2 linked regions of the Homo sapiens genome follow. The protein of the gene in region 2 interacts with the protein of the main gene of each other region in a pairwise test. Each region holds a gene or a part of one and is shown on either strand. Other genes may lie near its edges.

The links.
Region 1: the proteins of EFHC2 (region 2) and NEK6 interact in binary tests that used the Homo sapiens proteins (3 or more experiments, as listed by UniProt).

The regions. Positions count from the first base shown.
Region 1 is NC_000009.12:124,323,875-124,327,620, reverse strand, and holds part of NEK6 (serine/threonine-protein kinase Nek6), read right to left. Parts: intron 1,292-3,746; coding exon 1,183-1,291; intron 284-1,182; coding exon 176-283; intron 1-175. UniProt on the Homo sapiens protein: Protein kinase which plays an important role in mitotic cell cycle progression. Required for chromosome segregation at metaphase-anaphase transition, robust mitotic spindle formation and cytokinesis.
Region 2 is NC_000023.11:44,336,927-44,340,672, reverse strand, and holds part of EFHC2 (EF-hand domain-containing family member C2), read left to right. Parts: intron 1-3,746. UniProt on the Homo sapiens protein: Microtubule inner protein (MIP) part of the dynein-decorated doublet microtubules (DMTs) in cilia axoneme, which is required for motile cilia beating.

The DNA of each region.
Region 1 (3,746 bases), on a different chromosome or scaffold from region 2:
CCACAGCTGATTCCCTTCTGGGTCACTATTCTGAACAGATGAGAAAACCCTGGGGCTTAAAAAAGGCATCTTCCTGCACTAACTGACCAAACACACGTGGGGAGAATGTTTGCGTCTCCCTGCATGGTCACCAGGACCGCTGGGGGCTGCTGGGGCACAGACAGGTCCCCCTTACCTAGGGAGTGGGCTGCGGTGGTCTCAGAGCTGAAGAAGCGGCCCAGACCAAGGTCACCGAGCTTCACGACGCCCGTGGCTGTGATGAACACGTTGGCAGGCTTGATGTCTGCAGGGCGAGGAGAAGGAGATTGGTGTGGGGTAGGAGGCTTGGGGTAGGTGGGGCAGGACGAGAGGAAGGGGGAGGAAGGTGAGGCCTAGCCCAGGTCCTGCTCCCTCAGGGCAAGGCCCTGTCCTGGCTCTGGCTGTGGGACCTCGGGAAATTGACCATTTCTGAGCCTCAGTTTCTTCATATGAAAAATGGGTCTCCCTCCACCAACTTGACAGAGCTGCTGTGAGGGTTAAGACAGCAGGGGTTTCTGTGCTCCTGTTTCCTGCTCTAGAGCTGTATCCTCCATGCCTAGAACAGTGCCTCGCACACAGGAGGCCCTCAGGGAAAATCTGCGTAATGAATGAACGGAGTGCTCAGTGGAGCACCCAGTGCCGTACCCCCCAGTGAGGGCGGGGCCTCCAATACAGCAGACACCAAGAGATACAGGTAGAGTGAAGGAACGGAGGTGTCCATGAAGCAGCCTACGTAAAGGACCTCGTGCCCTGCCGGGCACCCAGCAGGCTCCTTTCTCACAACTCGGAATCATGTCAACTGTGGAAACACCCCTCTCAGGTGCCTCCCCTTCTCAGCCCAGCCCGCTGAGACGGCAAAGCCCCCATGAAAGTCCCCTCTGTGCGAGGCTTCCTCGACCTCCCTCCCAGGCTGCTGTGGGGAACTGGAAGTGGTGTGCCAAGCGGGGCCCCTGCCCCCTGGGGCTCATGTCACTTTCCACCTCGGGGAGGTTCCTGACCCGGGCGCGTGTGTGTGCGCGGTTGCTGGGCAGCCCCCTTGCCTGGGGAATACAGAGCGGTCCAACTTCCTCAAGGGGCTGCCCCTGAGGACCCTGGAGGAGCCATGAGGAAGTGTCTTCCTGGGCTCCAGGTGGCTCCGGGCGGCTCCTGGCGGGTGGCACGTACCTCGGTGCATCACCCGGCGTGAATGCATGTGCTCCACGGCGCTGCACAGCTGCACAAAGTACTTCCATACTGTCCTCTCCGGGATGAGCCGCTTCTGCTTCTTAAAGTACTGCAGTGGGGGAGACAAGCAGAGGGATAGGCCCGGGTGAGCGGGCTTGGAGGTGGGTGGCCACAGGGCACTGCCTCTGTCCTTTCCCCAGTGGGTAACTGGTGCCTGGCAGGGGCGGGGGGGGGGGATTGAGCCACTGAGCAAACAATAAGCCCAGAACCAAGAGTGCTGTGTCCACGCCTCTACTTCTGCCTGAATGGCACTCTGCAGCCACCCTGTCCCAACCCAGCAAGCTCCGTGAGGGCCAGGCAGGCCTGGCATGTCCGGATGGCTTTGCTGCATGGACACCCAGCTCAAATATGCTGAAAGTGGCCCTCAACTGCATTTTTCCAGAACCTCCTGGACACCCCCTCCACAGGGCACTCCTTGCAAGACTGAAATGGGTGTGGACTCTCCCTGTCCCCAGCCCCAGCCTGGCCCAGGAGGGTGGCACCCAGGACACACGTGGTGGTTAAATCACAGCTGCCCCCATCTCCTCGGAACCAGCAGATCTCAGTGCACTGGAATTCTTAACAAACGCGGCGAGAACCTTGAGGAAATGGGCTTGACGCACTCAAAAGGAACCCCAGTTCCAACGGGCATCAGTCTGCTTCACTGCCTGGGAAAACATATTTAGTGCTCCAGGAAGAAAACAAAAACTAAAGGTCCCCGGCCACACTGAGTGAGCTGTAAGTAACAGAAGGTCCTGGAGAGGGCAGGCCCAGAGCATGTGACAGCCACGGCTCAGCTAGAGACGGGGGTGGCTCTCAGGTGCCAGGCCCATGCCTGTGGGGCAGGACTTCTTCACCAGCTACCTGCATACCAGCTTTTTGTGCAGGGGCTTTTTGCTTCAAAGCAACCACCTTTCCCCAAAGCAGGCAGAGGCGGCGCTGTGGGCCTGCTGGTCAGGGCAGCTGCTCTGGTGCTGGGAAGCTGGGAACTGACCAGGACACACTGGCCTGGAAAGGGGCATGGGTGGAGGAAAGGAGCTGGGCCAGCACTTTCAGACCACCTGCAGGGTGTGGCCACCATGCCGGGCCTAAGAGGGAGGGCTAGGCCCATCTTACAGACAGGGAAACGAAACTGAGGGCCACGTAGAAAGAGGCAGAAACACAGCTCAGCCCCAGGCCTCCCACCTAGAAAGCCCAAGTCCTTAGCCCACTTCTTTTTTTTTTTGAGATGGAGTCTCCCTCTGTCGCCCAGGCTGGAGTGCAGTGGCGTGATCTCAGCTCACTGCAACCTCCACCTCCTGGGTTCAAGCAATTCTCCTGCCTCAGTCTCCCGAGTAGCTGGGATTACAGGTGTGCGCCACCACGCCCAGCTATTTTTTGTATTTTTAGTAGAGATGGGGTTTCACCACGTTAGCCAGGCTGGTCTCGAACTCCTCACCTCAGGTGATCTGCCTGCCTCGGCCTCCCAAAGTGCTGGGATTACAGGCGTGAGCCACCACGCCTGGCCCCCTTAGCCCACTTCTAATAACACCAGTAACCATTGATATGGGAGACTGAGCTCAGAGGTTCAGGAACATGCCCAAGGTCACCCAGCACCCAGCTGGGACCCAGGTCTGGGTGCTTCCCACGGTGGGACAGTCGCAGTGGGGAGCCCCTGACCTCGCCGTAAATCCCCTCGAGGCTGTTCTGAGGTACAATTCTGGGAGGCCCTCTCAGGTGAGCCGTCCCAGGTCTCAGCACAGACCCCACCCCCAGGCCACCTCCAGGCCTGTGGCGGGCCAGGCCGGGATGTTATTCACGCTGTGATGTGAGTGAATCCTCATTACAGCATTTAAGCAGGGACGCGCGTGGCCGAGAGTGGTGATTTTCTAAATGTCATGTCCTATAAGCGCTGTCTGACATTTAGCGGGGAGGCGCAGAGTCTCTGGTGGGTTCTGGGGCTACGGCAGCTCCTAGCTTCACTCTTCCTCGTAAATAACTCGGGCACCATGGCTGTGATGGCGCAGCTCAGCCCTTGAGGCTGCAGGCTCTCGGGACACAATCCCTGCTGCCTGACAGCCTCTGAGGCCAGTGGGGCGACCATGGGGTATCCCCTGTTCCTCTGGAAACCCAGAGGTGGCCTGAGAGCAGGCAGAACCAGGGGAACCGAGCTCCCACCAAACCCCAGGCATTGTGCTGGTATGTTACAGATGAGGCAACTGAGGCACAGGGACCCGCCTGAGGCCATCCAGGGGACGTGTCTTACTCGAGTGGGTCTCTGCACTGCCAGGCCTCCCCTGCTGGCGGCTGCACCGAGCCAGCTCTGCAGGTGAGGGCCCCTGAGCCGGGTTGGAGGGAACGGGAGCAGGCAGGGACAGTGGGGGGAGAGAGGTGGGGACTGTGGGAGGGGGAACCATGCCAGGTGAGGAGGAAGGACCCGAGGCGTGGGGGGCCAGGTGGCTGCTCAGAAACTGAGGCCACACCCATCCTAGACTCAATCCTGCTGGGTTCATGACTGACTTGAACCCTGAGCCAGTGTTGGCTCT
Region 2 (3,746 bases):
ACTGCTTTTTTTTTTAGACGGAGTCTTGCTCTGTTGCCCAGGCTGGAGTGCAGTGGTGCAATCTCGGCTCACTGCAACCTCCGCCTTCTGGCTTCAAGCGATTCTCCTGCCTCAGCCTCCCGAGTAGCTGGAATTACAGGCATGCGCCATCATGCCTGGCTAATTTTTTTTTTTTTAATTTTTAGTAGAGACGGGGTTTCACCATGTTGGCCAGGCTGGTCTTGAACTCCTGACTTCAGGCGATCCGCCCGCCTCAGCCTCCCAAAGTGCTGGGATTACAGGCGTGAGCCACCGTGCCTGGCTTTATTTGTATGACCATTTATTGGTCACTACTTTTTTGTGTAGTACTTACTTATCTCTTGTCTAATGTTTACTGGGTTGTCTGCCTATTTCTTAGTGATTTGTAGAAGTTCTATATAAATTTTGGGTATCTTCTTGTCTGTGATTGGCCTTTTCCTTCTCTTAATGATGTTTTTGATGAATAATTTTTGGAAAAGATCACTCTTTCTCCATGTCTCTGCAGAGCCACTTTGTCAAAAATCAAGCATCCAGCTACGTGTGGGTCTATTTCTAGACTCATGAATATTTAAAACATTTATTTACTTTATGCCTGAGAACAATGGGAGTGTGTGCGTGCATGTGTGTATGTGCGTGTGTACTAGAGAATGACAGTACCTTGGACTCATTCAACAAATCAGTATTTATTTATTGAGTATCCTAGTATATGCCAAAATTAGGTGACTACATTTAAAAAATTGTTACACTAGCCTTGGTACTAAATGTACTGTGTGTTGCCCACAAATTAATATTTTAAAAACTTGTACTTAGTTAAAAGATTGGATGTTCTCTGGCATAGAATGGTTAGAAAGTCAGTAAAGCCATATCTGGCCTTTTAGTCTTGCCCTTCCCCCCTCCCCTGCTTGCTGAATTAAATTACCAAGTGAAAAACCTTGGCCTCCTGTAGATAGCATAATTACTTGGCTGTTTGGATTTAAAATTATAACACAGCTAACTTTTATTGCTTTTCCATAGAATTGAAAAGGAACTTATGTGCCCCTTACTTAGCTGCCAGTGGTCAGTCAAAAGCAATAGATTGATTTCTGTCCACGGCTAGGTGATACGCAACCTGTATTTCTCTCTCTCAAATACAAGAAGTATGGTGCCTTCTAAAATATGAACATTTGTACCTCTGATGACATTACAATTATTTTGATATGAGTTGAAAACCTTAGGGAAATATCACAACTAAATTCTAGATACACTGTATCTTTTTTCCAACAATTTCCATGCTGAACTTGTATTGAGCAAGAGAATCTTGGGCATATTATCAAAATTGAAAATATTAAAATTAAAAGGGACATTTCCAGCCAAAGCCAAAAATCCTTTCTGCAGTATTTTGGACAGATGGTTGTGTGGCCCATCCTGATCCTGAGTGTCTCTAATGAATGATGAAGAGCTCACTCTTTCTGCTTTTTTTTTTTGGAGATGGAGTCTCGCTCTGTCACCCAGGCTGGAGCGCAATGGCGCCATCTCGGCTCACTGCAACCTCTGCCTCCCAGGTTCAATCGATTCTCCTGCCTCAGCCTCCTGAGTAGCTGGGATTACAGGTGTGTGCCACCACGCCTGGCTAATTTTTGTATTTTGAGTAGAATTGGGGTTTTACCATGTTGATCAGGCTGGTCTCGAACTCCTGACCTCAGTTGATCCACCCGCCTCAGCCTCCCAAAGTGCTGGGATTACAGGCGTGAGCCACCGCGCCTGGCCGCTCTTTCTGCTTTTAATGAAGCTACCTTGCCACCATCTTAGGAGGGTTTGCTGTAAATAGCCCATCATCTAATTTGTAGTGAAGCAAAGTCCTCCTTAAGAAAAAAGAAAACATATTTGAATTTGCAGCAATAAAAAAAAAAGGAATTTAATGAATCATGACCAGCTTTTTTTTTTTTTGAAAAGGAAAAAAGAAAAAGAAGAGAGTGGGGTAGAATGAAGAATTAGAGTGTATTATGCTTGAGAGGAGTTAAGTGTTGCACGGACCTTTTTGTCCTTCCTGTGTGTGCTTGTGTATGTATGTGAACTGGCCTGCACTAAAATATGCCTATTACTGTGGTTGTGCAATCAGTGTTTGAAAAACACTCATTCGAGCCATCTCCATCTTTTTTTTTTTGCGATAGGGTCTTGCTCTTTCTCCCAGGCTGGGGTGCAGTGGCAGGATCACAGCTCACAGTTCACTGCACGCAGCCTCAACCTCTCGGGCTCAAGACATCCTCCCACCTCTGTTGCCACAGTAGCTAGGACTACAGACATGCACCACCATACCCAGCTAATTTTTTAAATTATTATTTGTAGAGATGCGGTCTCACTGTATTGTCCAGACTGGGCAATTCTTATTTAAATTTAGATCTTCAGCTTCTTTCAAGGTCAGATCTCATCTCTCACCCTTCAAAGAGCCTTGTCAGCCTTTCTTAATGTATATTTTTAAATTTTTTGAGGTAAATTTCATGTAACATGAAATTAACCACTAACTATTTAAAAGTATACAATTCAGTGGTACTTGGTACATTCACACTGTTGTGCAACAACTAACACCTCTAACTAGTTTCAGAACATTTTCATCACCTCAAATCTCAATCTTTTCACCCTGGAGGAGTCTTTGAAATGATTTTGAGGTCTTAGAGAACTCCTGCATAAAAACTATATCTATAGCCCATGGTACATTAGCACAATCTGTGATAATAAATATGTAATTACATAAAAAGATGTTCAACATTATAGCTATTAGGGAAATAAGAATTAAAATCAAGATGAGATACCACTGTATACCTATTAAAATGGCTAAAATCCAAAACACAATACCAATTGCTCACATGGATTTGAAATAACAGGAATTCTCACTCATTGCTGGTGGGAATGCGAAATGGTAATTTCTTATAAAGTTAAACACACACCTGCCATATGGCCAGTTCCGAATTTATGTGAAATAAATAAATTCCCATAAATAATTCTGGGTTAAACTCAAAATAAGCACATATCAATTTCATTTTCAACTGGAATGAGAATATTGTAGCTATAATAATCCAATAATAATTGTCTTTTTAAAGTAAAAAATGGTAGTTTTCTGTGGATCTCTTGATTTCAGCCAACTTATTTACCTACTCTTTCCCTTTCTCACAAAGGGTTATCAACCCTAAAGCAAGTGGGAATGTAGAAGAGGAAACTTCAGGTTGTTTTATGGTAAAATTTTCTACTTGATTTATTTTTCCTTTTTACCTTATCCAAGTAGGCCTAAAAGTTCTCTATAGTTTCTATTATAGAGGGTGCTATTGAGGAATGATATATGGTATATGGTATGAACAAAAGTAGTTTTCTCCCCTATTAAAAACTGAAAAGGACTTTTTACCAGCTTTTTTGAGGGAAAAAAAACCCAAAACAGATAGTTAAACTTAGCTTACCTTTCTTTCCTTTCCATACATTCAAAAAACTTTTCAGTCAGCATAATATAAACATGTTAAATAATTCAAGTTATTTCTGTTTATATCTAAGATGGAATTTACTTTTTCAAAAAGTAGGCTAAGATGATTTAATTTAAATAAAGGTTGTAAACTCGTAATTAATGCTGTTTTCAACATCAAAATGTATTGACAATGTTACATAATAAAGCTACTAAAACTATATGACAAAGCATTATGAGTAAAAATATAACCTAAGATATAATTTTATACAAGACTTAAAAATTAGGTTCTTTTACTGAC